6 linked regions of the Homo sapiens genome follow. The protein of the gene in region 5 interacts with the protein of the main gene of each other region in a biochemical or structural test. Each region holds a gene or a part of one and is shown on either strand. Other genes may lie near its edges.

Region 1 (5,118 bases), on a different chromosome or scaffold from region 5:
TCATGGGTTTTAAGTTAATTAGTCTCACTTAATCACCGAATCTGAATGAAATGTGAATAGATGATTCACTGGATAAATATTTGGGATCTGGAATATTAATCATCGCATTCTCTTAACCACTTGAGTATTTACTACTTGGCATAGGAGCCATTTAAAGTTTTGCTAAACCAAGTGATTGCTTCCATTTCTCATTCCCAGACACTCCATTCCTCCTCGCTTTTACCTCCTTTTAGTTTTCTCCACTCCACCCCCATAAGAGTTTTCTCAAAAGAAAGTTTTGAAGAAAATATGTTTATTTTTATCAAAAGATATTTAAATTTAGACTGGAGGCCATGCCTGCATCTCCAAAAGGAAGTGGAGAATTGAAGCAATTAACTAGATGATTCAAGCAAAACCTCCCACCATAGATTTACTATAATTATTTGGAAATTTTAGGGGGAATGGAGTTATTTTGAACTGAAGAACTTGAATAATTGCTCCAGTATTTCACTCAAAATGTGTCAGTTGAATCATAATCCACCTAGAAGGCAGGTATACAAAGATGATTAAAGGCCACCTTTTCAATATGGAAGATTGTTGAAATATCTGTGATGGTAGCTTCGTATTTCTGTTGTTTGAAATGCTAGTATAATGCAGAGTGGTGTTCGTTTAAAATGCCTATTATTCCTATGAGTTGCCAAATGCATAGCCCTGTAAACTTTACACCTTAAAAGTATATGACTTTCTTTCTAGAACATGCCTCTTCAGTCTTTGTTACCATTTTAGGTTTGAAGTAGAATCTAGTTTTCATATACAAAATAGAGTTTCCTCTTTGAACCCTTGCATTAAAAGTATAGTTATTTCCCCTTTCTGTAAACTCTGTACCATCATCATCCATTTATGCTTGAACTGAACGTGTTCCAACAGCTCTTTTGAGCAGCACATGCAGAAAATATAGCTAAAGAGTCAGGGTCAATTTCTTTCAGACATTCTTGCCACAACAGCATTTTTTTTTCCCTCACAATTAGGAACCAACCGGTGAGCCCTCTCCTAAGAGACCCAGGGGAAGACCCAAAGGCAGCAAAAACAAGAGTCCCTCTAAAGCAGCTCAAAAGGTGAGATTTCTCAAGTCAAGCTCTCCTAACTTCATCAATGACTGACTACAGGAGCCTGCCTGTAACTTTCCCATTCTAACTCCGCAGCCAGGAATTTGTCCCAACTGGGTAACACAAGACTCATTTCTTACATTTAACATTAGTTAGATGCGAGTTAACCTTTTTTGTAAGCAGATGCTCAGCATAAAAAGTTTATGAAGATACTTAACAGTGTTGTTTTTAAACAAACAGCCACCAAATAATTTGAACCTTAAAACGGGTAGAAGTGAGGAAGGAAGGGGTTGCGGGGGGGGCGGGATGAAAATGACACAATTAATATTTGCACCAGTTGTAAATAGTTAAAAACAAATCAAAACTATAGATTTTGCCTGGTGGTAAAGTTTTTGCAATTTCCTCTGAAAAATGATAAAGATTGATTTACTTTGTGCTTATTACATGGCTACTGCAAACCAAATCCCCCTATTAAAGTACTTTGCCAAATAGACGATAATTAGAAGTAAATCTAGTTGTGGGATAGTGGAAAAATTCCATGAATTTTGCAGCTTTAATTGTGATAATAAAGTATACTGTTTGTTTTACAATAAACCTGCAGTATAGTATATCATAATCTCAAAATGCCTTTTCATCAAGTGACATAGAAATGTCTGAATTGGACAATGAGACTTTTTAAAACAAGTATTTGGCTCATTTAATATCTCTTTTTGGGCAGAATGGAACCCAGTTAAGTGTAATATTCAGTGTTTATCTTAATAAGTTTAAACTTGCAGTTTAAGATAACTTCAGGTTGGCTGTGTTTAAGCTAGCAAAGAGGAACTATGTCAGGGTTAATGCATGTATAGAGAAGTACCAGTCACTTTTTTGACTTTATAAATAAATTGGAAAAAAAAGTTTCTGCGTTGTATTTGTAGGTTTGTGTAGTAATTGAGAACAAAGTTTCAAAAATCAGAACTAAATTTGGATATACCTTTTCACCGGTTTTGGGTACTCCATGTACAGTATTTGTTAGAAAGGACTATATGCTCATCGTTTGGGGATTAATGTTTTGTGTGATTTTCTTTGTGACTGTGGGTACTAACTGTAATGTATGTAAACTGCCATAGCAACTAATGGTACATATAAAGTTATTTAGGAAGTTACTCTGAGTTCTTGTCTGTTTTAACAGTTTTGAACAGAGTTGAGGAGCATATTTTTAATATATTTAAATTTAATTGCTTCTTAGAGTTTAGATTTAATTGTTTCTTATTTAATCAATAAACTTTAAAATAGCTCTAAGTAACCTTGTTATTTAAAAATGGCAATATATAATCTGGTATTTTTAATATGAATACTTTACATTTGTTTCATTTTATCTCATTTATAAATTAACTAAAATGGACTGATTTTACCAAGGAGTTTTTCTATGTTGTGTAAGTGTGGAGTTTACCTAATTTACTTTTATTCTAAGGAGATGCACAAATGAATATCTTGTTAGATAGCTGACACGCATTTAAGCTGTGGTATAATTCCTCTGAAAAACACATCATGATAATATCTCCTAGGAAGAAATCTTTAAATTTCACCATAAATAAGTAATTTGAAATTTAATACTAAAAAGGAAAATGAATTGTCTCCCATATTTTACTATATTTCATGTTTTTTGGATGAATAGATAGAAACGCTCCCATCGCCTCCGCTTCATTTTAAAAAGCTTACCACTGACTAACAAAATTTGTATTGAGAAAAGGGAAGCTGAAGCTAGTGCCTAGTTTACCACCTAAAGCAAAATTTTTAAAGTTGATCTATTCCTAAGTAAGGGTTGATTTATTTTTAGTGACTCTAGTGACAGGCATTTGTAAATGACCCCCCTACGCCGCTCATCTTTCTGAAAATTCTTCATGTGTATGCATACATTATTCCAATTTCCAAAACAGAAGTAGGCTTTCTTTTTTCTAAAGATTCCTTCTCCAGAATCTTTCATTCTTTCAGACACAATTATTTCCTACAATGGTGTTATAAAAATCCCTCTTGTAATAAAAATGAATAAATACATTTGCCCATAACATGACTTATTTTTCTTCAGTTTTATAAATTACGCTTCATCTGGAGAAGAGAATACCTTGCAAAATAATGAATGACATTGATGAATCGTTCATGGCATGTGTAAACTTAAGGTATTTTCACTTTCAAATCAGAATTTGTTGAGTATGTTACTATTCTATATAAATATGATTTTCAAACATTTGTTTATTAAGCATATATTGTGTTCTAACAAAACATATATGTTCGTCAGGATTTTGCAATGCAAATCTTTTTAGAAAAAGTTATATTGTTCATAACATGTAAGATAAACATACCCTGTGAGACTGACCAGAATAGATATGAGAAGTCTTCTATGAGTAACAAAGTGAGTGTTTTCCTGTAAACTGAGACCCATCACAATGCAAAATACATTGCAAAGACTGGTAAGTATATGAGAAGAAAGAAGCCTAAAATTAGAGGAGCTGCAATGCACACTGAAATCCTGATGGTTATATACTTAAAATTTCTTGCTGCTTGGAGTTTCTTGACTTACAAAGTTTATATTTGGATTCAGTAATTGGCCTTGGGACATTTGAAAACAAAGCTGTTGATTTGAAAATTAACAGTGTGAAACTGGACAATGCATGCAGAATGTTGCAAGACCAAGTGAATGACTACTAAATTAGCCATCACTTCAATTTCAAACCATATTCAGTAGAAAATTGATTTATATAATATGTAAAACAAAGACATTTATAAGAACACAATTTCCTATGCTTGGAACTTTTGGAAGAGAAGATAATTATTCTTCAATCTACTTAATATTCCATTAAAACTAATTACTATGCATGACCATTGTGTAATGATTCTAGTCATTCCTCAGAACTCCAATCTGAGTGCTCAAAATTTGTCCCTGAATCAGTTTCATATAGTTACCTGAATAAAAGAAATCAGAAGTTAAAGTTTTCCTGAATAATTCATTTGTCCATGTGTGTATACGTCTGTGTGAGCATATCTTTACCCTTTTATTTATTTTTTAGTCTGAGGTACACCTATGACCAGTTATGTCTTAACTTCCTTTTTTGTTTTGTTTTGCTTTGCTTTGCTTTCCTGGTTGTGGTGGATGGAAATCTTTGCATTTTTACAGTTCCCAGATGGTTAGAGAGAAAGAAGTTATAATCTCCTTTAGTTTAGGGTTTTGTTGTACTTTTTTAATCATGACAGAATACTGGAGGGGTTGTCACTAATTCTTCAGTGTTGAAGGTCTCAGGTCAAATTCACCTTTAAGTTTTAAGCCAATTCTCATTCACATATTTTAGGAAGTTTTTTTCTGAGGTTGAATTAAATTTTATTGGAAGGAAAATGAAAATAAAAAAAAAAGATCTCAGGTGTGAGATAACCCTACTTCATCATGTCATATATTTGTTCACCACCCTTTTGACTTTAGGTGTAATGGACAGATCTAGGAAGCAAAGTGCAGAATGAAAATATCTAGATAAAGTAGTTATAGTTAAAATAATGTGTTCAGAGTAAATGTTTAATCTCTATGTTTGATTTGCTATAAAAAGAAGGCCTGAATTAATTAGATACTGTAAAGACTACTTCATGCTCCTTCTAATCATTTGCATTTCTCGAAATGTGGTTTGCTTTTCATAATCATTACCCACACCAATCACAGATATTTTAAAAAGAGAGAAGATAGTTTTAGTCACCATTTCAGAAAAATCATTCAGCATAAATGCTGAGTGAGGACAGAATTTTCTTCAGAATATAGTAGGCCTAATTAAAAGGAGAAACCAAAGACATTATTATTGGTGAGTTAAGGAAAGGTAACTTTGGAAGTTATCATATAATTCTGGCCTATGGTTTCTAAATTAAACTACTATGATTTAGTTTAATTCCTCTGTGTTTCAATGGGCAGGTAAGTTTTATTGTGGGATTCAGGGCCCTATCTGAGGATACAAATGAATTCAGGCGGATTCAGGGCCCTATCTGAGGATACAAATGAATTCAGCAGGTGAAATTA
Region 2 (5,118 bases), on a different chromosome or scaffold from region 5:
AGTGCAATGGCATGATCTCTGCTCACCACAACCTCCACTTCCTGGTGCAAGCGATTCTCCTGCCTCATCCTCCTAAGTAGCTGGGATTACAGGCATGTGCCACCATGCCCGGCTAATTTTTGTATTTTTAGTAGAGATGGGGTTTCTCCATGTTGGCCAGGCTGGTCTCGAACTCCCAACCTCAAGTGATCTGCCCACCTGGCCTCCCAAAGTGCTGGGATTATAGGCATGAGCTACCGCGCCCGGCTCATTCTCTATTCTTGCCTGTAAGTTTGCAGTCTTCCCCAGTGTGATACATTTTAACAGAAAAATGTGGGGACAAGAAGTGAGGAAGTTATGAACTCTGAGGGCAGGGGGCTTGCAACCCGGGGGGTCTCAGGGCCCTGGGAAGGGGAAGGTCAGGGGAGAGGGCCACTGACCGAGCCGCCCTCCACGATGTCCCTCCAGAGCGGGCGGTCAGGGGGCTGCTCGGCCAGCTCCAGGAGGTTGTCCAGCACCACCTGGCCGATGAGGTCGTGCCGCGAGAAGCGGTCAAAGTCATAGACGCTGAAGTGCAGTTTGCGTTGGGCCAGCTCGGCCAGGGGCACCGAGAATTGAAACGTCTCATTGAAGACGGGGTTCAGGGTCTTCCTGTGCACCTGGTGGTGGTGGGCGACAGGAGACAGACACCGTGCCCATAAGCCCCTCCTCCACAGGATCCAGGAGTCCAGCCCCCAGCCCCTCCTCCCTCAGACCCAGGAGTCCAGGCCCCCAGCCCCTCCTCCCTCAGACCCGGGAGTCCAGGCCCCCAGCCCCTCCTCCCTCAGACCCGGGAGTCCAGGCCCCCAGCCCCTCCTCCCTCAGACCCGGGAGTCCAGAGCCCTAGCTCCCTCTCTGTGGGAACCCGGTGTCCAGCCCGCTGCTCCGGACCTTGGTCTGAAACTTTTTCTTGCGGTCAGGCAGCAGGTAGATCTTGACGTAGGGGTCTGAGAAGCCGTTGGAGTCCTTGGCAGGGAGGTCCAGGGCCTGCAGGATCCTCACCACCAGCTGGTCCGAGCCATAGAGGTACCGCAGGGCGAAGCTGATACGGCCACAGGGTGCCCCTGTGCCTGCCTCTCCAGAGCCTGGGCCCCCACCGCTCCGCCGGCCACCAGGGCCAGTCCCCTGGTACAGCTCTGGCTTAATCTGCCCAATGAGTTTGGCTTTTTCCTCGCCTCCAGGCAGGGGTAAGGGCAGGGCAGGTGGCCGCTCCTCACTGCTGGGGTCCGGCTGGGAGGTCAGAGTCTGCTGGGTGAGGGGTCGGGGCAGGGCTGGGTACCTGTAGGGGGTTGGGGGGAGACCAAGGTGAGGTCAGTGGCTCTGATCTTCGACTGCATGCAGAGACCTGGGAGACTCCTCCCTGCCTTTCCCCCCATCCCCCAGCCAGGTGGCCACAAGTCCCCTCCTTTGCTCACTGTGTGAGCTTGAGGAAGCCACTGTGCTCTCTGAGCCTCAGATTCCCCATTGGTATCTGGGGGGCATTCCTTCTCTCCCTCCCTCCCTCCCTCCCTCCCTTCTTTCCTTCCTTCCTTCTTTCCTTTTCTTTTGAGACGAAGTTTTGCTCTTGTCACCCAGGCTGGAGTGCAAAGGCGCGATCTCGGCCCACTGCAAACTCTGCCTCCCAGGTTCAAGTGATTATCCTGCCTCAGCCTCCCGAGTAACTGGGATTACAGGCATGCACCACCATATCCGGCTAATTTTTATATTTTTAGCAGAGATGGGGTTTCACCATGTTGGTCAGGCTGGTCTTAAACTCCTGACCTCAGATGATCTGCCCGCCTCGGCCTCCCAAAGTGCTGGGATTACAGGTGTGAGCCACCACACCCAGCCTCATTCTCCCCATTTCAAAGCTAGCTCCAGCCCAGACCTGTGCATAAACCAGCTTCCAGTAACCTCTTTTGGACCTCAAGCTGGTGACCCAGGATGCTTCTCCATGGACCCCTGGCAGACCTTCTTTGAACGCTCTTCTGCCCTTCTCTTAATCTCCCCGGCTGTCTCTCCTCTCTATCCCCACTGTCCTGGTCACAGCTCAGGCCTTGTCCTCTCCTGGACTCTCAGCCTCCAGTGTCTCCCTCCAGCCCACTCCCATATGGCCCCAGAGGGTTCCTTCTACACCCAGAGCTGAGCCTGCCCCTCCCCTGCTCACAGCCCTCCCATGGCTCCTCAGTGCCCTCAGGACAAAGTCCCAGACCCTCAGGCGGGCACTCAAAGCCCCATGTGGTCTGGTGTCTGTAGTCACATCTCTGAAGTTTTCTTTTTCTTTTTTCTTTCTTTCTTTTTTTTTTTTTTTTTTGAGATGGAGTCTCACTCTGCTGCCCAGGCTGGAGTACAGTGGTGCAATCTTGGCTCCCAGGTTCAAGAGATTCTCCCGTCTCAGCCTCCCGAGTAGCTGGGATTACAGACACACACAACCATGCCCGGCTATTTTTGTTTGTTTGTTTTTGTATTTTTAGTAGAGATGGGGTTTCACCATATTGGCCAGGCTGGTCTCGAACTCCTGACCTCAAGTGATCTGCCCACTTCGGCCTCCCAAAGTGCTGGGATTACAGGCATGAGCCACTGCGCCCAGCCTGAAGTTTTCCGTTTTTCAAACTTATTCTCATGCCTTGGTGACTAAGGCTTGGTGCCCTGGCTGTCCCCTTGGTGTGGGCTGTCCTCACAATGCACTAGGATCTCGTTCTCCTCTTGTCTTTGCCTGGGCCTCTCCTTTCACCTGGAATGCCCAGGTCACAGCCCTGCCTCTTTGCCTTCCCAACTCTCCCTCAGCCTGCAGGTCTCAGCTGAGACATCTCCACCTCCAGGAAGCTCCCAGCCTTCTCCCAGTTGCGGTTCCCTGAGTCGCTTTCCTGTCTCACCAACCTGGCTACACCAGGACAGCCAGTCTGGGGGTCGCCTCCCCTGCGCTGTGAGTGACAGGAGGGCAGAGTCTGGTGTTTTCCTAACACCCCTCTCAGGCCTAGTTTATATCAGTGCTCAATATACATTTACATGTATATTGAGAAATAATGAATGAAGGAACTCCAGGTCCCACTACCAATCCTGGCTTAGGGTGAAAGGGGGTGAACTGCCTTGTGCCACAGGGGACTTGGGGATCCAACCTTATTCTCCTCTACTTTCCTGTCCTAAGTCCTGCCCCCAGTCTCCTCCCTCTGGACCCAGGAATTCAGGCCCCCAGTCCCCTACTTCTTCTGGTCCAAGGGGTCTAGACCCCACAGCCCCAACCTCCCTCAGATCCAGGAGTCTAGGGCCCCAGCCTCCTCTTTCCCTAAGATCCAGGAGTCAATACCCCGATTCCCCTCCAAATCCCGAACTCATAAGAGCTATAGATAGGAAAGAGACACAGAGGAGGAGCAGAAGTTCAGAGTGGACCCCCAACCCAGTATCCTCTCTCACCTGGTAGTGGGTGCCAGGCTTGTGACCTGCTGATGTGACTGGGCACTGGGCAAGCCCCCACCACTGGGGGGCAGCAGGAGCAACCCAGAGCCTGCTCCCCCCTCAGAGGGCAGCTCAGGGGATGTTTGGCTCGGTTTGACCCCAGCGGCCACTGCTGCTGCTGCAGCCTCTGGATACGAGTCCATGTCCAAGTAGGAGGGCTCAGGGGTGTCAGAACCCCCCAGGCTGCCTGGCTCCAGCAGCTCAGCAAAGGGTGGATGGTGGGCGGCATGGGCATGGTGGTGTGGGCCGCCCAGCAGAGGATGGCCACCCAGGCCAGCCGCCAGGTGGTGCCCGCCTCCGCCTACCAGGCCTGCCAGCCCGACACCAGGGCCTAGGTCTTTGCGCAGGGGGCCACCGCCCACTGCCGAGCCTCCCTTGTCCCGCCAGGGCACCCAGCACAACTTCCAGGACACGAAGAGAGAGACACCCAGAAGGACAATGCCACAGAATGTCACGATGACCGACAGCAGGCTCACGGAGATGTCTGGAGAGAACGAGGACAGAGGTAGGGGTCAGGATGGGGTCACAGTACATCCTCCCTCTGCTGTCCCCAAAGAGTTAACCCTTCATATTTGCCATGCAATTGTCCATGCAATTGCAAGTGCCAGGCACTTTACATGTATTACTTAATTTATGTTCTACAACTCTACAAGGTTAAGTATTGTATTTTTTTAAAGAGATGGAATCTCTGTTACTCAGGCTGGAGTGCAGTGGCATAATCACAGCTCACTGCACCCTCGAACTCTTGGGCTCAAGCAATCCTCTTACCTCAGCCTCCCAAGAAGCTGGAACTACAGGTATGTGCTATCACACCTGGCTAACTTTTAAATTTTTCTGTAGAGATGAGGTCTTGCTATGTTGCCCAGGCTGGCTCGAACTCCTGGCCTCAAGCAATCTTCCCACCTTGGCCTCCCAAAGTGCTGTGATTACAGATGTGGCCACTGTGCCCAGCCCAGTAGTTCTATATGACCATTTTAAAGATGAGGAAACTGAGACACAGAGAGATTCAGTGATTTGTTTAAGGTTTTACAAGTAATAAATGACAGTTCTGAGATTTGAATCCAGCAGTCTCTCTCCAGATTTTATTCTCTTAATCACTAGACTTTGCTGCCTCTCTATAATAGAACACAACATGTGAGGTAGCACCAAGGTCCTCCAAAATGCTCAGAGATGGTCAAGGAAGCATGGACCCTGCACGACACAGTTAGGCAGGGCAGGGTTTAAATCACGCTTGCTGTGTGGCCTTGGGAACATATCTTGACCACTCTGAACCTTACATTTCCCATTTTCCAAGTAGGAAAAATCAGTTCTTCCCTCTTACAGTAGTTTGAAGGAATGCAGAAGGTAAATCACATGTGGAAGATAATAACAAACATATCTTGAGGGGTGATTACATACCAAATAGCTCAGTACTTTATAGAGATCAGGTTATTTAAGCCTGCCAGGCACTACATGAGGTTGGCAACATATTTATCCCTGTTTTCCACAAAAGAAAACTGAGGTCTGTATACCCATAGTTACCTGCTCAAAGTCCATAGCTGGTAGGTGGTAGAGTCAGGATTTAAGTCTGGGAAGCCTGGCTTCAGAGCCCATGGTCTTTACTATGATGCTATCACACCTCAACGCTTCCCAATAAATGGTAGTTCAAATGTGAATTTTTATTAG
Region 3 (5,118 bases), on a different chromosome or scaffold from region 5:
ACGGGGTTTCACCATGTTGCCCAGGCTAGTCTTGAACCCTTGACCTTGTGAACCACCCGCCTCAGCCTCCCAAGTGTTGGGATTACAGGCGTGAGCCACCGCACCCGGCCCAAATACCCTTTCTTTAAATTGAAACTTTATTTTATTTTATTTATTTATTTTTTTGAGACGTAGTCTCGCTCTGTCGCCCAGGCTGGAGTGCAGTGGCTTGATCTCGGCTCACTGCAAGCTCTGCCTTCCAGGTTCACGCCATTCTCCTGCCTCAGCCTCCCGAGTAGCTGGGACTACAGGCGCCCGCCACCACGCCTGGCCAGTTTTTTGTATTTTTAGTAGAGTTGGGTTTTCACCGTGTTAGCCAGGATGGTCTCGATCTCCTGACCTCATGATCCGCCCACCTCGGCCTCCCAAAGTGCTGGGATTACAGGCATGAGCCGCTGTGCCTGGCCAGTAGTTGCATTTTTAGTTTTTCTTTTTTAAAATAAATTTGCAAACTGTTTTCCAGTATGGCTGTACCAGTTTACATTCCCACCAGCAAAGTATGACAGATTCAGTTTCTCTGCATCCTTACCAGCATTTGGTGTTTTGCATGCGTGTCTGTGCACGCACACCTATACACACACATATAGCCATTCTGATAGGTGTGTAGGAATATCTCATTGTGGTTTTAATTTGTATCTCCCTGGTGCAAATTAAATGGTGAGTTGGTCACAAGTACTCCAGGTTGCCGGTAGTTCCTTTTGTGTGTGTGTGTGTGTGTGTGATTTTTAAATTTCAAATATAAACATATATATATATATATATATATATATATTTTTTTTTTTTTTTTTTTTTTTTTTTTTGAGAGGGAGTTTCACTCTTGTTGCCCAGGCTGGAGTGCAATGGCGCGATCTCGGCTCACTACAACCTCCACCTCCTGGGTTCAAGCAATTCTCCTGCCTCAGCTTCCTGAGTAGCTGGGATTACAGGCATGCGCCACCACACCCAGCTAATTTTGTATTTTTAGTAGAGACAGGGTTTCTCCATGTTGGTCAGGCTGGTCTCGAACACCTGACCTCAGGTGATCTGCCTGCCTCAGCCTCCCAAAGTGCTGGGATTACAGGCATGAGCCACCGCGCCCGGCCTATAAATATATTTTTAAATTTTCTTTTTTTGGTGGAAGTGCTTTTTTTTTTTTTCTTTTGACATGGAGTTTTGCTCTCGTTGCCCAGGCTGGAGTGCAACGGCATGATCTGGGCTCACCGCAACCTCTGCCTCACAGATTCAAGTGATTCTTGTGCCTCGGCCTCCCAAGTAGCTGGGATTACAGGCATGTGCCACCACACCCGGCTAATTTTTGTATTTTTAGTAGAGACGGGGTTTCGCCATGTTGGTCAGGCTGGTCTCAAACTCCTGACCTAAGGTGATCCACCTGCCTCAGCCTCCCAAAGTCAGCCACCGCGCCTGGCCTAAATTTTCAATCAATATGTGCCAAGTGATTATTATTTAAAAATATTAGCTTGAGAAGAGTTCTCAGACTCAATTTTATTGTCATGAGCCTCTTACAGTGAGGTCTCACAGACTTCCTTTTTCCTTCATGCCACTGACTCTGAGACCATCTGGCACTGTGACACCTCTGTTGGGTAATCAAGCCATAAATCAAAATCTTTAGTCTCCAATTCCTGTATCGCCTTTCTCAAAACGCAGCCTGAGTCTGAAAAATAATGTACCTGTAACCAAGGACTCCAACACCTATTTAATCATCTATCAAACCTGAAATAAAAACCCAATTTTGGCCGGGCACGGTGGCTCACGCCTGTAATCCCAGCACTTTGAGATGCTGAGAGGGGCAGATCACATGAGGCCAGGAGTTTGAGACCAGCCTGGCCAAGATGGTGAAACCCCGTCTCTACTAAAAATACAAAAGTTAGCCGGGTGTGGTGACACATGCCTGTAATCCCAGCTACTTGGGAGGCTCAGGCACGAGAATCACTTGAACCCTGGAGGCAAAGTTTACAGTGAGCCAAGATTGCACCACTGGACTCCAGCCTGGGTGGTGGAGTGAGGTTCTGTCTCAAAACAAAACAAAACAAAACAAAACAAAACAAAACAGAACAAATCAATTTCCAGGTGATTCTATTTCGGAAATTGGAAGAAATTAGGGACTTTTGATCAGTCCATGCATTTTTGTCATAGACTTCAATTCTTTTCCAGGAAATAGTTTTGGGTATTTTTTTTGTTATTTATTTATAATTTTAGTTTAATTATTATTATCTTTTTTTGAGACAGGGTCTGTCTCTCTTGCCCCTGCTGGAGTGCAGTGGCATGCTCATGGCTCACTGCAGCCTCAACCTCCTGGGCTCAAGTGATTATCCCACCTCAGCTTTCCTAGTAGCTGGGACTACAGGCATGCACCACTACAGCTGGTTAAACTTCTGTATCTTTTTGTAGAGACGGAAATTTCCCCATTTTACCCAGGCTGGCCTTGATATCTTAGGCTTAAGCGACCATCTTGCCTTGGCCTCCCAAAGTGCTGGGATTACAGGTGTGAGTCACTGCCTACAGCCTGGTTTGTTTTTTAATTTTGTTTTGTTGTTATTGATTGTTTTTATTTTAAGGAATTTAGTAGCTCTAGATGCAGGCTTATCTTCAGTTTTCCACAGCCCTTGCTCACTTTCTTTTCATGGGAATGGCCTGGGCCTACCGTAGAAAGCATACTTCACAGTATATGGCTAGCCCTCTATATGAAAAATAAAACGTCAGAAAGTGTGCAATCCACCTCTCTCCAGCCTTAAAGGTGCAAAAAGCCTCAGAGTCACTTCAAAAGTGTTCTGACTTTGGAGACATATTCCAAGGACTGGCTCAACTTAGGTTCTATGTTATGCAACTAGACATTCAGCTAACAATTTGGCAGTCATGGCGAGGAAACATACACATGAGGCTCAATTCAAGGGTAGTAACTTAGTACGAAATGCAGTTGGTTCAAATGATTCTGGCTGGGATGCCAAATATGTAATTGAGATGTTTATGTTACCAGTATTATTAGTTCCCTTTTTCCTCTGTTAAATAGCTATTTACACACACACACACACACACACACACACACACACACACGTATATACAACACACTAGGACACCAAGTGGGTATTTTTGCAACCCAAACTAAAAATCCATAAGCATATGCATGGCAAACCGAATAGTAGAGATAAGAAAGAGAAGTATTCTTACACAGGAGGCTCTCACCTCCTCAAAATTCCCAAGTTGACATTTAATGTCAATGATGTTCATGCCATTGAAATAAACATAAAACAGGCATCTTTCTAACCCTCTGAAAGGCTGCCGTAATAACAGTGCTTAACGTTTATGAAGCATCTGCTGCGTCAGGCACCTTGCAAATGTTTTCCATTCATTGTGTTACGTGAGTCTTCCGACAACCTTGTGGAATAGGCAATCTTAGGGTCTACATTTGACAAATGGGGAAACTGAGGTCTAGAGAGGTTAGGAAACTTGCCAAATGTGTTAGAGCAAGTAATTGGCTAAACTGGGATTATAACCCATTTTTCTCTGACCCTAGAGCCTTGGCTCTTGATTGCAACACTGTGTTGCTTCTTTAGACTAGACTGAGATTCATGGACCATTTTAAGTTTGTAACCACCTTTGAGAGTCTGAATGGAGGACGTGGTTTTGCCTGGTTTTACTTCCTCCTCTAGAGTGCGGGGTCCATATTCCTCTGATGATAAGGGCCAGGAGAGCCATCTAAACAAAGTACTGCTTAGATCACTCCAAAGCCGGGGCCACTCACACTGCACCCCAGGAAACTGAACCTCTGTCCTTTCCAGCCCAGACTTTCTTCCACGGAGTGACACTGATTAGTTTGTAGGCCAGGTGAGGCATGATTTCATAACCATGGAGTAATCTGACCAGGGTCATGCAGGGGAGCAGCAGGCCTGCGGTATATAAATTCTCAAATACACATCTTCCATTTATTTCCTTATTTCTTTCTTTAAAAAAAAAAAATTTGGCCTAGGCATGGTGAATCATGCCTGTAATCCCAGCACTTTGGGAGGCTGAAGCAGGAGGATCTCTTGAGCTCAGGAGTTTGAGACCAACCTGGGCAACACAGAGAGAACACGCCTCCACAAAAAAAATAACAAATGAAATAAAATTTTAATTTTTTAAGAGACAGGGTCTCACTGTATCACCCAGGCTATGTACAGTGACATAATCATAGCTCACAGTAACCTGGAACTCCTGGGCTCTAGTGATCCTCCCTCCTCAGCCACTCAAGTAGCCACAGGTGTGTGCTAACACACCCTGCTAATTTTACATTTTGTAGGAATGGGGTCTCACTGTGTTGCCCAGGCTGGTCTCAAATTTCTGGCTTCAAGAGATCCTTCTGCCTTGGCATCTCAAAAAGCTGGGATTATAGGTATAAGCCACTGCACTCTCTCTCTATATATATAAAATCAAAGCCCCACCAATGCCACCTCCTTTTCTATTTTCCAAACTACTCCACCACCATGGTCTGCACCACTCCCTGTGAGGCCCCTCAAAGCTGTCCATGCCCATGTCTACATTAGGCTTCTCTACCCATCGTGTCATAACATTTCCTGTATTTCCATTTCTTTCTTTCTTTTTTTTTTTTTAAGGAGTCTTGCTCTGTCACTCAGGCTAGAGTGCAGTGGCGTGATCTCGGCTCACTGCAACCTCCACCTCCTGGGTTCAAGCAATTCTCCTGCCTCAGCCTCCCAAGTAGCTGGGATTACAGGCATGCGCCACCACGCCCAGCCAATTTTTTTTTGTATTTTTAGTAGAGATGCGGTTTCTCCATGTTGGTCAGGCTAGTCTGGAACTCCCGACCTCAGATGATCTGCCCGCCTCAGCCTCCCAAAGTGCTGGGATTACAGGCGTGAGCCACCACACCGGGCCTATTTTTAATTTTTATTTTTGAGACAGAGTTTTGCTCTTTTGCCCAGGCTGGAGTGCAATGGTGCGATCTTGGCTCACTGCAACCTCCTCTCCCCAGGTTCAAGTGATTCTCCTGCCTCAGCCACCCGAGTAGCTGGGATTATAGGTGCCCGCAATCACACCTGGCTAATTTTTGTATTTTTGGTAGAGACAGGGTTTCACCATGTTGGCCAG
Region 4 (5,118 bases), on a different chromosome or scaffold from region 5:
AGAAGCCAGCTCTGGGGTATGAGGATGGAAGGTAGGGAAGAAATAAGGACACTATCCATCCCCTCGCCCACCAGGCTGGCAGCCTCCCCTCTGGCCTGTTAGGCCACTGGCCTGGGGCTGTGCCCTCTCCCCTCTCCCTCCCTCCTCTTTCCTCCCATGCCTGGGCACCATGACATCACCACTCCTCCAAGCACCTCTGCCCTCACCACGGAGGCCAGCTTGACGTGCTTGGCATCTTCTAGGCAAAGGGTCTGGAGTCCAGTACCATCCCTGGTGTGCTGGCAGCCCTCAACTCTTCCCTCACCCCCTCCTTGAATGGGCCTCTCTGGCTGCAGTTGGGACCTGTCTTGCCCACCCCAGTTGCAGCTGCGGGACCCACCAGTGCCTGTGGTAGGGCAGCTGTGACTGGGAAAGGGGCTGGCCTGAGGCTGACTCCTCTCCGGTGTGGGCATTGGGCTGGGTGGGGTCAGACATAGGCTGGAGAGGGCACAGTCTGCCTTTGAGCCTAGTCATCTGGGGTCCTTGAGGAGTCAAAGATCTCATTCTGGCCTCTGCCCTCTGGCATCCCTGCCCACCTTTGTAGGCTCTATAGTTCCAGGTCAGATTTCCCTTCCCCCCAGCTCCCCCAAGGCTCCCTAGACTCAGCTCCCCAAGCCAGGGCTCTGTGTCCCCCATTTCTGCCTCCCCATCTCCCCTTGGCTGGTACTGGTTGGTACTGAGATATGCAAATTGATTTATGTGTAACTCAGGCCACCCCTCCCCTCCCCTCTGGTCTCCCAGGGGCCAGTGCCTTTTATATCCTGATCCTCTCATCCCACTCTCAGGAACACCTGCGGCCCAATCCTTAAAAAAAAAAAAATCTGTCCTCTCCTGCTCCCCTTTGCCTCATGCTGGTTCCAGAAGATCCCTGTGGTACTCCCTCCCTCATCCCACTTACTATGCAGGTCCCTAAGGGCTCAGCTACTGTGAGGACCTTACCTGACAGGTGTGGTTCTCTCCCTACTTGGGCCTCAGGCCCCCAGGCCCTTGGTTCCCTGATCTATTGTGAATGAAGAAAAGGACTGTGGGAAATAATCGGAGTCCAGTGAAGAACCCAGACCAGCCCCCTCCCATGCACACCCAGGCTCCAGCTCCACACTCTGTCCAGCCTCCCTAGACCAGACCTGCAGCCTCCCTTCTGCCCCCTCCCAGACTTCACGGCCTCTTCCTGCCCTCAGCCTTCACCCTCTGGTTCATCCTGAAGTCCCTGTTTCTCTCGGACTGCTTGTCCCCAGGCCAGGCAGGCCCCAGCAGGCCTGCAGGGGTCAGCGTTGCAGTGGGCAGGCAGGACAGCGGCAGGAAAAGAGAGAGGGAGGGAGAGGTGACCTTGCAGTGAGCTGGTAAGCAAGGCCAGAGAGGGAACCACTGGGACAGAGGTTAGGTCCTGAAGGCTGCCTGCCCTGCCCCCAGCCCTCTGTGAGCTTGTCCCTGGGAGTAGTAGTGCTTGAAGCCTTCTTTTGTCCCACCTGTTAGTGGGCTCTGTTCCCTACAGACACTCCACTAGGCAGGTCGTGACTTGGGAGCATGCAGGGCAGGGGGCCTTGGCACAGCGGGCCTCTTCTCTCAAGGTGAAGGATCCACTAGATTGTCCAGGCCAACCCTCCAGTCACTGGGCACAAGTTAGGGGAAGAGGCTGATGGCGGGTGAGGGAGGTGCAGAAGTTAGGGGTGTGGCTGAAAGGGCAGATCAAGGGTATGCCCTGAGGAACACCTGGGTTAGAGGCCAGGGCTGGAGTGTGGGAAGGTCCAAGGAGGCCTGACTGTGTCCACCCATTTCACCAACAACCTCTCTCCTCCCACCTACCTCCCCAAAGCCTGCCCCATCGGCACATGCCCGGGCCTCCCTGGCCTGCATCCTGGGCTTGAGTTAGAGTCCGGACTGAAGATCGAATGATCTCCCCACAGGCCAGGACACAGTGGAGGACCTGAGGCTGGGCAAGTCTAAAACCCAGAGGGGGTGAGGATGATTTCAATGGGGCATGGGCCAGGGTAGCCAGTGCCCCCAAGCTGTTGTGTTACCATGGAGACAGGCCCCCTCCAGGGCCCTGGTTCACACTGTTCTGTGGCCTTGCAGGGAAGCTTGATCAACAAGCTGCCCGCTTGAGGGCTGGGGCATAGTGGGGAGGGAGATAGCCCCAAAGCCCCTCCTCATACTGGGGAGGGGGTTAGAGCAGGCCGGATTGAGGTGGGAACGTACAGGCCAGTAGGTGACAGGTAAGGGGACAGCTGGAAGGCAGGTCAATAGGTGGGTGCTGGGTGAGCAAAGACAGGCCCTGGGCAGCTGGGTTCTGCTCCTGGCTGACCCCAAGCTCAGGCTTAAGGGGCATTGAGGGCAACATGGAGTGCCAGTGGGGGCTGTCTCCTTGTTACACCCTCTAGCCCGGCCATTGCAGGATGTTGTGTGGAACAGGCAGAGGAGCCGTATATGGTTCCCTCCCCCTCCTGCCCCTCCTGAGTCCCCCCATCCTACTCCCCACCCACCCCCTATTCTCTCACGGACTTTGAATCCTTATTGAATCTGATGGACCGTTTTCGTTTTCAATAACTGGTTCCCCCAGGGGAGTGAGGCCAAGAACAGAAGAACAGCAGGGAGAAGAGCTGGGAGGGGTCACGTGGGGGCGGGAGGCCCAGTCCGGAGCTGATGACCCCCAGCTGGAGAATGAGTTGGCTTGATGGCTCCTCAGAGCACTGTGGCATCACAGGTGGGCATGGGCAGCCCTGTATAGAGCTGGTCCTCTGCTCCACAGACAGTGCCCGGCAGGTGGCATATGTGGCCGAGAGGTCAACTTTCTCTCGTCGGGGCAGTCACTGGTCTGGCCAGGTGCCGGCACCAGCCTGTGCCAGGCCCAGCCCGGGTGCCTGCCTGCCTTGCCAGGGAACCCCAGCTGGTGATGCCAGGTGAATTCTGCCAGTTCCGTGGGCATGGAGGTCCCTGACCTTCCAGGCAGCAGGGGCAGCCCTGCTGGGCCCTGTCCAACTAGTGTCTGCAGGGCAGGGCTTTGGTCTCACCCAGCAGAATTCCCCAAGGGCTGGAACAGAGTTGGCAGACAGCATGGGACTTGTGGAAAGGGCTGGACTGTGCCCAGAGCTTTGGCCTGGAATTCCAGGTCCAGTTGGTTGGAAGGCGGGCAGGTGCATCCGGCCTGCTCTGGGGAGTCTCTGCAGCCTCCACCTGGAAGGACCCCTTGGGATAGAATGGACCGGGAGCTGAGGTATTGTGAGCTGGAACCCCTGCAAAGCTGCATGTTTGGGGAATTGGTATCTTCATGTGATTGAGCCCACGGGTGGAAGGGGAGGGCGGAGGCAGGGGGAGAGGCACTGTCTGTATGTGTACCTAGTGTGTGTGCGGGTGGCAGCTGGATGGCCATAATATCTGTGCTTATCGAAGTGCCAGGACCGCTGTAAACAGCAGCTAATGAGTGTATTTGTAGCGAGGCGCGTTGAGGTGCGTGGGGAGCTATGACGGAAAGCTTTAGGGGAGGGCCCCTCCCCCGGCCCTGTACCTGGCCAGGCAGGGCCTGTGTGCCAGGGACCCTGCCTACCCCCTGCCACACCCTCCCACCTGCTGGCATGGCCATGAAGGCCTCGTCTGCTCGGAGCAGGGCCTTACCTGGCTGTGTGGCATACATGGGTGTGGACGGGGGTGATCATGGGAGCTTTCATGTGTAAGATACAAGCATTTCCATGACGGTGTGGGGCTGTTAGTATGTGTGTATGTGTCTGGGTCAAACTGATCTCGCCTGTGTGTTTGTGACTAGGTCTGGTCTGTGCATGTGTGTATGCACTGCTTCCCCAGGCCCTAAGAGGAGGGCTGCCTATCATCTCTGTAGTGACCCTGATAGTGACAAACCCTAATAGTGACAAAACCAAAGATGCTGGTAAAACAGGCATATGCTGCTGGCCCTGCTCCTTCGGTGTCCTTCCTGGAGTGCAGAAGGCTGGTGGCTTCCATGGCTGACTGAAGGAGAAAGGGGGGTGACTGTTCTGCCCATTGTAGGAGACGGGAGGGAGAGGTCTGAACTCTAGCCCCAGTGGGCTGCCATAGTTGCTGCTTGCATCAGAGATTGGGGAGAACCTGGGACCTAGAGAGCCCTCTGGTTCTAGAGCCCCCAGGAGCCCCAGGAATGAGAGAGGAACGGTGCCTACCTGTTAGTCCTAGCTGGTTGGTGGAGCATGCACCCTGCCACCAGCCAGGGCAGGGTGGCATGAGGGGTGGGAGGCAGAAGGGGCGCCTGCATGAGGCTCTGCACGAGGGGAGTGGAGGAGAGAGCATGCAGCTAATGTGTCCAATTAAATTACTTCAAACCCTGCCGCGGCAGCTGCTCCCGGCGGGGCCCTGGGTACAAATTGGATCCGTCTCATTACCATGGGGTGGTGTCAGCGAGGCCAGAGAGCGGCGGCCAGCATGGCTGGCACATAGCAGGCTCTCTCCCGCTCTGCCAGGCCTGGGCCCGGGAGGGCCCCCTCAAGCATTTGCTTGCTCCAGCACCCCTCAGAGGAAGTGCCCCGCGTCCAGATACTGGGACTCCCTGCACACCTCCTTACCATCCCTGACCCCCATCCAAGGATGGGGGTCAGGGATGGCAGCCAAGGGACCCTTGGAAACACTTTCTCCAGGAATGGGGGTTTTGTGCTTTGCAGAGGGACCAGCTTAAGGAATCCCGTCTCAGGTCACCAAACACATCCTGTGTCCTCCCCTGATAATAACAATAGTATGATAATAGCAAGCCTTGTGGAGCACTCAGTATGTGCTGAGCACTTTACATATGTGCCTCCAGGGACAGCTTGCTTGAGCTAGGGCTCTAGTGTCAAACAGCTATTGATTTGAATCCTGGCAGAGACACTTGCTGCTCTGTCTCTGGAGCAGGTCAGCCCACCTCTCTGGCCTTGGGTTTCCTCTTCTGTTAAATGGGTATGATGATGGTTCTTACCTCCCAGGCGGTTGGAAGATGAGGTGAGATAAGGCAGAAAAAGTATTTAGCAGAGAGCCAGCCCATAGTAAACACTCAGCCAGCGGTAGCTGTTCTCAACATTGTCCTGTACCAAGCAATTGATGTGTGGGATGAGGGTTCTGGATCCT
Region 5 (4,324 bases):
GTTAATTTTCTGTTGATTGCCCTGTTTGGAATTTAAAGGAAGAGGATGCTTCTACATATTTCTGTTACTTCATAATCAGGGAATTGATCAAGTTCTAGTTTCTGCAGTTAATTGTCCAGTTGGACAAGTTGGCAAGCTCTGAACCTCAATTTCTTCAGTTCTAAAATGGGATCAGACAAAATTATGTAATAGCTCTGGATTATGTGATTATCCAAGTGACCCATGCTTGTTCTGGGACCAAAGAAAATATACTTTGTAGGTTTGATGATAGTGTAAATGAAGGAAGACTACAAAAAGAGTTAGTTTTAATGCTCTATATTTCAAACACCTGGATATACTAAACAGTGTAAAATAACTTCTTTTTATTTCTTTCAGAAGACGATATATGGTTAATTTATTAAAGTAGAATGTAAGTATAGGAGATTATATTAGATAATGTGATTAGAGCAGTTACATTTGGTACTTGATAGAGGGAGATACTAAATAGAAGGTGGAGGATGTCAGTATATCTGTTAATATTTGAAAAGGAGTACAAACTAAAAGGGATGATTGCATGTTACTTTCGTACTTTAACTTGCTACAGTCTTTTTTTTTTTTTTTTTAAGTTTTAACTAAGCACGTATTCCTACATAATTCTCACTGTATTCCTGTGAGTTAGGTACTCTATCCCTTAGTTTGAAATGAGGAAACTGAGGCTCAGAAGTCAACTTCCTTGGGGTCATTCACATAGTAAGTAGTGGAGTTGGATTTGAACTAAGGTAGTCTAGTCTCCCATAATTTTCCCTCTTAACCACTATACCAGGATTTCTCATCTCTGTCCTCCTGACATTTTGGGCTGGATAATTCTTGGTCTTGGGGGCTGCCCTGTGCGTTGTAGGACTTTTAGCAGCATCCTTGGCCTCTTCCTGCTAGATGCCAGTAGCACCCCCTTTCTCAGTTATGACCGTCTAAAATGTCCCCCTGGAAAGAGGTGGTGGCAAAATTATCCCTGGTGAGAACTATTTAGAAATAGAAAAGGATGATCTTTCCATCATTTCCTCAAAACAATAAACCAGCAGAGCACATAAAAGGTCTAAGGACCTAGTGAACCGGAATAACATTTTTACGTTAGTCAGTTGGAACAGGGGCCTTTAATAATTCAGGATAAAATAAGGCCGGGCGTGGTGGCTCATGCCTGTAATCCCACCACTTTGGGAGGCTGAGGTGGGCAGATCACTCTAGGCCGAGGTGGGTGGATCATTCGAGGTTAGGAGTTCGAGACCAGCCTGGCCAACATGGTGAAACCCCATCTCTACTAAAAATAAAAATTGGCTAGGTATGGTGGCACATGCCTATAGTCCCAGCTACTCGAGAGGCTGTGGCAGGAGAATCACTTGAACCCAGGAGGTGGAGGTTGCAGTGAGGTGAGATTGCGCCACTGCATTGCAGCCTGGGTGACAGAGCAAGACTGTGTCTCAAATAAATAAATAAATAAAATAACATAACAGGTACGGAATAAAAAACACGAGTAAATTATTCCTTCAAGAGGGATTAATTTCCATATTTCATGGGATTATTGGGCTCAAAATAATCACTAAGTTTTAAGGAATTGTATAAAATTGTACTGTAGGGAACATGAGTTGGAATATTGTAACTTCGTTTAGTCCTTTTACATAGTATGTAAGCATATGCTGATTTGTGTGGTTGCTTTCTAATCACTTTGACAACTAAAGTTATACCTGTTTAGTGGTTAAAGTTCAGCACTATAGTTACGGTGTAGTTTATTTTTGGGAAAGTAGCAGATCTTTTAAATTTTACTTGGATAGCATTATTGTAGAAACAGGAAAACTTTAAGGTCTTTATGCTAATTTACTGTAGTAAACTTTGAACTTCACACATTTTGGTTGTGTGCTTGTCCTACTTGCCATTTTGCTTTTGTAATAAATGTTCTTCAAGTATATTGGAATAGAATCTTAGCAGAAATGCAATTCAAAGTGACAAATTTTTTTTTGAGTCAGAGTCTCGCTCTGTCACCCAGGCTGGAGTGCAGTGATGTGACCTTGGCTTACTGCAGCCTCCGCCACCTGGGTTCAAGCGATTCACCTGCTTCACTCAGCCTCCCGCATAGCTGGGATTACAGGCATGACCGCTCCCAGCCCTAAAGTGGCAAATTTGACAGCTAAATCAATTGTAAAAATTCTGTAACAGGTTTATTGGGAGATTTTGAAGATCATGAAGAAATAAATAAGGTTCATAACTAGAGATTTGTGGTATTTTGGGATGCCTATATTGTCATCCTGATCCTCTGATCATTACTACTACTAAAACTTAATCTAGTACAAATAATTCTGTATTAAAGTTATGTGAATTATGCGAAGTAAACTCTGGATTTAAACTGTTACAAATGGCTAAATGCCTACTTGTTAACTAAGTAATTTGATTTAAACTCTAATCTCTGTCTCTTTTTTAATAGGTATGACGATTACTACTATTATGGTCCACCTCATATGCCCCCTCCAACAAGAGGTCGAGGGCGTGGAGGTAGAGGTGGTTATGGATATCCTCCAGATTATTATGGATATGAAGATTATTATGATTATTATGGTTATGATTACCATAACTATCGTGGTGGATATGAAGATCCATACTATGGTTATGAAGATTTTCAAGTTGGAGCTAGAGGAAGGGGTGGTAGAGGAGCAAGGGGTGCTGCTCCATCCAGAGGTCGTGGGGCTGCTCCTCCCCGCGGTAGAGCCGGTTATTCACAGAGAGGAGGTCCTGGATCAGCAAGAGGCGTTCGAGGTGCGAGAGGAGGTGCCCAACAACAAAGAGGCCGCGGGGTACGTGGTGCGAGGGGTGGCCGCGGTGGAAATGTAGGAGGAAAGCGCAAAGCTGATGGGTACAACCAGCCAGATTCCAAGCGGCGCCAGACCAATAATCAGAACTGGGGCTCCCAACCCATTGCTCAGCAACCGCTCCAAGGTGGTGATCATTCTGGTAACTATGGTTACAAATCTGAAAACCAGGAGTTTTATCAGGATACTTTTGGGCAACAGTGGAAGTAGAAACAGTAGGGCCTCTGTAAAATTGGAGACTGATAGGTTGATCAGAAACTCACCCTAAATCTGAACGGGTGCCGCTATAATTTGTGACATCTGGCAAGATTTCCCTTTATGTATATATTTTAACAATCCGCTTGGACACGAACAAAGCCACACTTCTAACTGCTTCTGGCGAACTGATTTTATTTTTAATTTTTTTCAATAAAGATATTCTTAGATACTGAAAGAAATAGTTAATGAGTTTGCATTTGTGCTTGAGAAAATTTGGCTCAAGTCCATTTGGCTGTAGTGTCAACGATGTTTCCAGTAGTGTTTAGATTTGGTGTCTTCAAAGGTAGTTGATTAAAACCAAGTGTGTCTTTAATATCTTGTATCAGAATAACTTTGTATGTTACCAACTTAAATTGCTAGAATAAGGTAAATTGATACACAACTGCTATTTTTAATTTAGAACTTTGACCTAATTTGGGTTTTCAAAACCATTTTGGCTACTTGTATTCTTTATGCTGTTGTTTATTTCAATAAAAAATTCACACCTAAATGTATACTTACTAAAATTGTGTTTACAATTCGTTTTTCACAAAATTTCCTGCAAATTTGGTTCAAATTGTATAGCATGTCAAGGCCAATTAAAGGGTTTTGTGCCTTGTTAATTCTTGTGTGGAATATGTCTGCACATTACACAACACTGATTTATTGCAGTTTTCTGCTTCTGGTTTAAAGTGCTATTTTACAACAGACTTCATGTTCCCATCAAAAATAAAAAGATAATACATGTAGTAAGTTTAAGTTGGTAAGTATTTTAGAGTTCTTAATTGTGATGAATGAACTGTATAAAAGGACAAATTCAGGTAGTCTCAAAGGGTTTGCAGGTCACACTGACAAGTCCACTTTCAGTTGCCTAAAGTTTATCCTAACTAACCTAAAACTCAGATTGAGTATATTGCCCTCTTGACTGTTTTGCACACCATGGGACTAGAAAGCAGCAAAGAAACTCTAGTGTGAAAACAATGGGAATAGGTTTGGGTAATTTGTGAGTTGCACTCTAAATAATCACTGTACTTACCTAATTAAAAATAAAACAGCTTTACAGTTAGTTTTGGGTAAGCAAATATATATCTGAAGGATAAAATTTACCTCACAGACTGGTTTGTATTAAAGATCTAATAGTTTGGATTTTTGTTTCACATTTTAGTCTTGTTTTGGCCATATGGTCTATACTTCTAACAGTAATGATGGGAAAATGTTAGAGTTTTGGGGGACAGACTCTAGGTCAACAGTGA
Region 6 (5,118 bases), on a different chromosome or scaffold from region 5:
GCCTCTTGATGTGTGTCAGAATGATATACCCTCAGCTGTGGAGCCCCAGGTGCCAGGCCACTAAATGTATCTGAGCGTTGACTAGGGATGTCTAAGTAGCAGAGGAAACCTACCGCAAGGGACAGTCCAGAACAGTCATGAGACACAACACAGATAAGGACATAGAAGGAAGAAATAAAAATTAAAATATCCACACACATTAGTGAAAACCGTGGAGAAATGACCTTTCCAGACCTATGACTTTACATGTGAATATTTTCCCTCTGTCTGGTTAGTGTTCTCCAATTTTAACACATACAAAAGAACACATAAATATATATCTTATGCAACATAAATGTCTATACTTTTTGTAGTCATTGCAGAATATTTAAAAAAATCTTCCTTGGTTGCAAAACCTTACTATAGAGACATGTAGCCATGAATATTGAAATTGGAATTTCTGTGAATTTGATATGAATTAAAATGGTAAAAATGTATTGATTGTCCTAGAGCCTTTATATCTTGTATATAGAGCCTATATATAGATATTTCTTAAGATTAAGAAATTATATCTAAAATGCCTCTCACATCTGTCTTGTTTTTAAACGAGAAGGGCATAAGCCATCTTTATTTTCTTCCCCATGTTCACTTCAACATTCTGCTGAAGATATTTTGAAAATATAATTATTTAATAATAATTTTAATTTGTATTCATGCTGTTTTGAATTTTGGGTGATCTGGCGATCATCATGTGATGAAACATCCTCTTAAAATCTGCACATTCTATTTTGCTTTTTTAGCCTTCCTCTTCATAAAATGATGGAACCCATGATTAGCTACTTTTGTCTGCTTCAAAAAGTAGCATAAGCTATGGTTATATAAACGTTTATCCCTGGAGTGTATATTCATCTGTCCAAATTGTACCTTATTCTGTGAATTTAATTGTTCATAACTTACAAAAATTGAGACCTAGCTAATGTCCTATGTAGACAAAGTGCTCTACCTAAAATAACTGAAAACATCTTTTTGAGTGGTTGAAATTCTAAATAATTTGCAATAACAGATTAGTATAAACTATCACTGACTTCTTAATATTTCTTTGTTTGAATCATTTTCTCTGTCTCTCCCCATCCAAAAAATAGATCATCAATGAAAAATTAACCCCCATTAATTCTCTATATTTGAGATCTTGGTCATTTATCCAGGTCATAACAGGGGTAATAAACACCACCACTATGCTGTAAATTATAATTTTACATCATACAGAACAAATCCCACAAATATTATAGATTTATTGTCCTAGGAAGAAATGCTATCGTTATCACTTAACATTATTCAGTAATTTTAATTAGTTCTAGAACACAGGGAAACCACATTCAAATTTTATGATAATTATGAAAAAGATAGTGATCTATTGTCAAATTATTGTTTTCACAATATTGATAAAATTAACATACATATTATTCAGTCCATGTCCATCTAGGAGGTTATTTCCACACTTAATCTCCCAATAAGTTGTTTAAAGAAATCTTTATCAAGTCCTGCTTGCTATGAAAAGTGTGGAAATAAAGTAAGACATGCCTGGAAATTTTAGTTTCTACTTAAATTAACTGAAGAGAAAAATCTTTATTAGACACCTGTAGTTGAACGTTTATGCATTGGCTTTTGTGACTGTGATTAGAAATTGCCAGAAAAATCAAACCCTTGCTACTCCGAGCTCAGGCCAAAACTCTCTGAGTATGAGTACAGGCATTTCATCCATTCCATAGCTCCAAAACAGAACAAAAATGCAGGGAGTAAAACATGAGCCTTTGTGAAATTATTATCAATAGATACTATAGTGTCTTTGAGGAAAAAGAGTTTAAAACTGAAGCTGGGAAGGGGAGTTAATGTCCCTGAATGTGTAATGAACTAGGAAACAACGCAAATGTACTTAAAATGCCTGTTGTAACACCTGATTAAATTGTTCTTAAGGAGATTCAGGTTTAAGAGTTTGATTAATAGTAATTAATAGTATAAGAGGAATTTATAAAACTGCTTATATATTTTGCTATTTGGGAATAAATAAAACTTTTGTATTTGATGAAAACATTGATAATTGAAAATGTTAATTCTATAAAAAATCTGTACATTTACATTTTAATTTTAAAATATGAATTAAATATTCTTTAGAGATATTCAACATGGATATTATTTCAAAAATGAAGAGGCATTTAATAATTATCATTAATAATAGTAAACATTATCTTGAACCAAGTTGTCCAATTAATTTAGCCAAAAACAGATAGCAACATAAAGAACATCCAAATAGCTTTTTTGGGCTTGGAAAGATAACCCAGCCAGATGGATTTTATAACCAGTGTTATGGTTGTAATTGTCCTTATTAAATTGAAATGAGAATTTTGTCTTATAAGAAATAAGAAAGAAAACTTTTTCATAAGGCAAAAATTCTATCCTGTCGTGTTCTTTAGAACTGGCTCATATTTCTCTCCCTTCTCCCATGTAACTCATTATTCTTGAGAATTAATTTTTCAGCTGGATGGACATGTAGGAAAAGCAGCTTTCATCCAGTTTGATGAACAGCCGTAAAACTCAGTTATTTAACAGTGACTATGAACAGTAGAAATTAGAAAGATCCCCTGCCCAAATGCAAAACACTCAGGCACTTTTTATCTGATTTTTCTAACTCTAAACGCAATGAAGACTGGTTAAACAGATGTAATCAAAATATTCAGGCATCATTCTCATATGCCAAACCCATCAAGATGGGCCTGATGATCATGGATGCCCTTTTCTGTTCTATATGCTCAGGAGATTGGAAAACCCTGCCAAATGCTTCCATTATGCTTTGGGATCTTGAACAATGACTGAAAGGTTTGCAAAGCATCTCAAAAACGATATGGGTCCAGAAGTTGTTTATTTCTGTAATTATATGGCATAAAATAATACATTTGTTTATCTTTTTTAAACAAAATAAGAAGAAATGTAGAAAGAATACATTACCTGATCTTTCATCGTCTTCCCTAAGTCTTTTACATCTTTCATGTTAATGGCATTCTTCCCTCCTTTTTCCTTTCCCTTCTTCTTGTTTTTCTTTTTGAACAAACATTTCTTACAGATACAAAAGCAGCAGGTCAGGACTAAAAGGACTGCGACTATGGCTATTGCAATTAAGGCCCACGGTGGCACTGAAAGAAACACACAGAGAGCACTAGTCATACAACACTTAGATGTGGAAAACCTTTTAACTCATGGGCTATAAAGATATTCATTTTTTTCATTTGCATTTTTGAGCACCTGTTATGCTGCAGGTACACCATTCCTCAGTACTTTATCCATGTTGTTGTCTCCCTTGAGTGTATTGTTTCCTTTCTTTCCCACTTTGCCCTTCCAGATATGTCAAATGTCATCTCCTCCCTATTACTTTTCTTGACTCTCCAAGCTAGATTTCTAGGAACACATCTCTTCACTCATTCAGAGCCAAGCTTTGGAGTTCAGCCATTGAGTTTAAATCCTGGCTTCACCATTTACTAGCTGTGTGATCTTGGGCAAGTCATCTAACCTCTCTCTGCCTCACTTTCCTCATCTCTAAAGTGGAAATAAATTGGTAGGTACCCCATAGATCTTTCTGAGTATTAAATAATAAGATGCAGTGCCTGGCACATGGCAAAAGCTTAATAAATGGCAGCTGCTATTACTCATCTATAAAATACTAGGTGTTGTATTCTTATGTTCTGGCATGGTATGGGGCAGATATTAGTTGTATATATAGAACAACAAATGTCAAATCATAACAATAGTGAAGGTTAATTAAAAGTACTTGGTGATTTGAAAATCAAGCATGGGGAAAATGTATGCACTGAAGTTCTCCAGATGTGGGTGATGCTCATGTGTTCGGTGGCTCTTAACCCAGGTTTAGATTTTGGCTTCGGCCACTTAGAGGCTGTGTGACTCTACTCAGATTGCTTCACTGTTCTGAGTTTCTGTTTCCTCCTCTATACAGTGAAGATTACAGTGGTACCCATTTCATCTGGCTTAAAGATGAAAGGGATTAATATGTTAAAAAGCTTTTAATGCATCTGGAACATAGCAAGAGCTCAATTAATGTTAGCTATCAATTCTTTTTTTTTTTTTTTTGAGATGGAGTCTCGCTCTCTTGCCAGGCTGGAGTGTAGTGGCACGATCTCGGCTCACTGCAAACTCTGCCTCCTGGGTTCAAGCAATTCCCCTGCCTCAGCGTCCCGAGTAGCTGGGACTTCAGGCACACGCCACCATGCCCAGCTAATTTTTATATTTTTTTTAGTAGATACGGGGTTTCACCATGTTGGCCAGGATGGTCTCGATCTCCTGACCTTATGATCCACCTGCCTCGGCCTTGCAAAGTGCTGGGATTACAGGCGTGAACCACCACACCTGGCCAAAGTTAGCTATCATTTCTTTATAGTCAAGGCATGGTGGGTAAGGCAGAGAGCTCAGGACATATGAAAAAACATAAACTACTCACACAAGTAAATACCTAAAAAGCAAGATAAATACACAGAGGGGAGTTTAGTGAAAATGCAAAGGCAATGAGAGGAGGACGGATGATTTTTAGATAAGAGGAGAGGCTTAGGTTTACAGGCTGTTTAAAATAATAGAACATATATACATAAATATACTAAAATAAACATTGAGTTTTCTATTACAGTTGTCTCTCTGATAAAAGTTAATATATTTTCTTATTTGGTATGCCTTACACCATGTGCTTATAAAAAATAAGGTGACATGGAAACATTTATGATTTCAGTTAGATTGGAAGGGAAGTATTCATAATCCAAATCACAGCTATTGAGATTAATCAGAAGTAATTAGATTTGTCTGTTGTAATAAAAAAAAAAGATACTGGGCACTGAAATGATAAGAAAAAGCCAAATAAACATTACTAGAACCAATGATTGCTGAACACCAGTCAGGAATACTTTGATAAAGTAAAAACACTTAAAAATTAACCTCTCTTCAAAATTGAGAAAATCTACTCTCTTTGCTTTTCCTCTGCATTTAGTATCATTGTGCAGAATACTTACTATGCATAATATTCTGGCTTATGACTGGATACTAGATGTTAACCTAAGGACATAAAACTACAACTTTTGAAATTGT

Evidence for each region.
Region 1: the proteins of SYNCRIP (region 5) and HMGA2 form a complex in vitro, tested with the Homo sapiens proteins (one study listed by BioGRID).
Region 2: the proteins of SYNCRIP (region 5) and SYT3 form a complex in vitro, tested with the Homo sapiens proteins (one study listed by BioGRID).
Region 3: the proteins of SYNCRIP (region 5) and APOBEC1 form a complex in vitro, tested with the Homo sapiens proteins (one study listed by BioGRID).
Region 4: the proteins of SYNCRIP (region 5) and SYT7 form a complex in vitro, tested with the Homo sapiens proteins (one study listed by BioGRID).
Region 6: the proteins of SYNCRIP (region 5) and SYT1 form a complex in vitro, tested with the Homo sapiens proteins (one study listed by BioGRID).

Annotation. Positions count from the first base shown.
Region 1 is NC_000012.12:65,826,994-65,832,111, forward strand, and holds part of HMGA2 (high mobility group protein HMGI-C), read left to right. Parts: intron 1-1,007; coding exon 1,008-1,094; intron 1,095-5,118.
Region 2 is NC_000019.10:50,628,875-50,633,992, forward strand, and holds part of SYT3 (synaptotagmin-3), read right to left. Parts: intron 3,938-5,118; coding exon 3,412-3,937; intron 1,298-3,411; coding exon 910-1,297; intron 639-909; coding exon 420-638; intron 1-419. UniProt on the Homo sapiens protein: Ca(2+) sensor involved in Ca(2+)-dependent exocytosis of secretory vesicles through Ca(2+) and phospholipid binding to the C2 domain.
Region 3 is NC_000012.12:7,655,016-7,660,133, reverse strand, and holds part of APOBEC1 (C->U-editing enzyme APOBEC-1), read left to right. Parts: intron 1-5,118. UniProt on the Homo sapiens protein: Cytidine deaminase catalyzing the cytidine to uridine postranscriptional editing of a variety of mRNAs. Form complexes with cofactors that confer differential editing activity and selectivity.
Region 4 is NC_000011.10:61,574,108-61,579,225, reverse strand, and holds part of SYT7 (synaptotagmin-7), read left to right. Parts: intron 1-5,118. UniProt on the Homo sapiens protein: Ca(2+) sensor involved in Ca(2+)-dependent exocytosis of secretory and synaptic vesicles through Ca(2+) and phospholipid binding to the C2 domain.
Region 5 is NC_000006.12:85,613,476-85,617,799, reverse strand, and holds the end of SYNCRIP (heterogeneous nuclear ribonucleoprotein Q), read left to right. Parts: intron 1-2,452; coding exon 2,453-3,044; 3' UTR 3,045-3,824; downstream 3,825-4,324. UniProt on the Homo sapiens protein: Heterogenous nuclear ribonucleoprotein (hnRNP) implicated in mRNA processing mechanisms. Component of the CRD-mediated complex that promotes MYC mRNA stability.
Region 6 is NC_000012.12:79,283,836-79,288,953, reverse strand, and holds part of SYT1 (synaptotagmin-1), read right to left. Parts: intron 3,168-5,118; coding exon 2,983-3,167; intron 1-2,982. UniProt on the Homo sapiens protein: Calcium sensor that participates in triggering neurotransmitter release at the synapse. May have a regulatory role in the membrane interactions during trafficking of synaptic vesicles at the active zone of the synapse.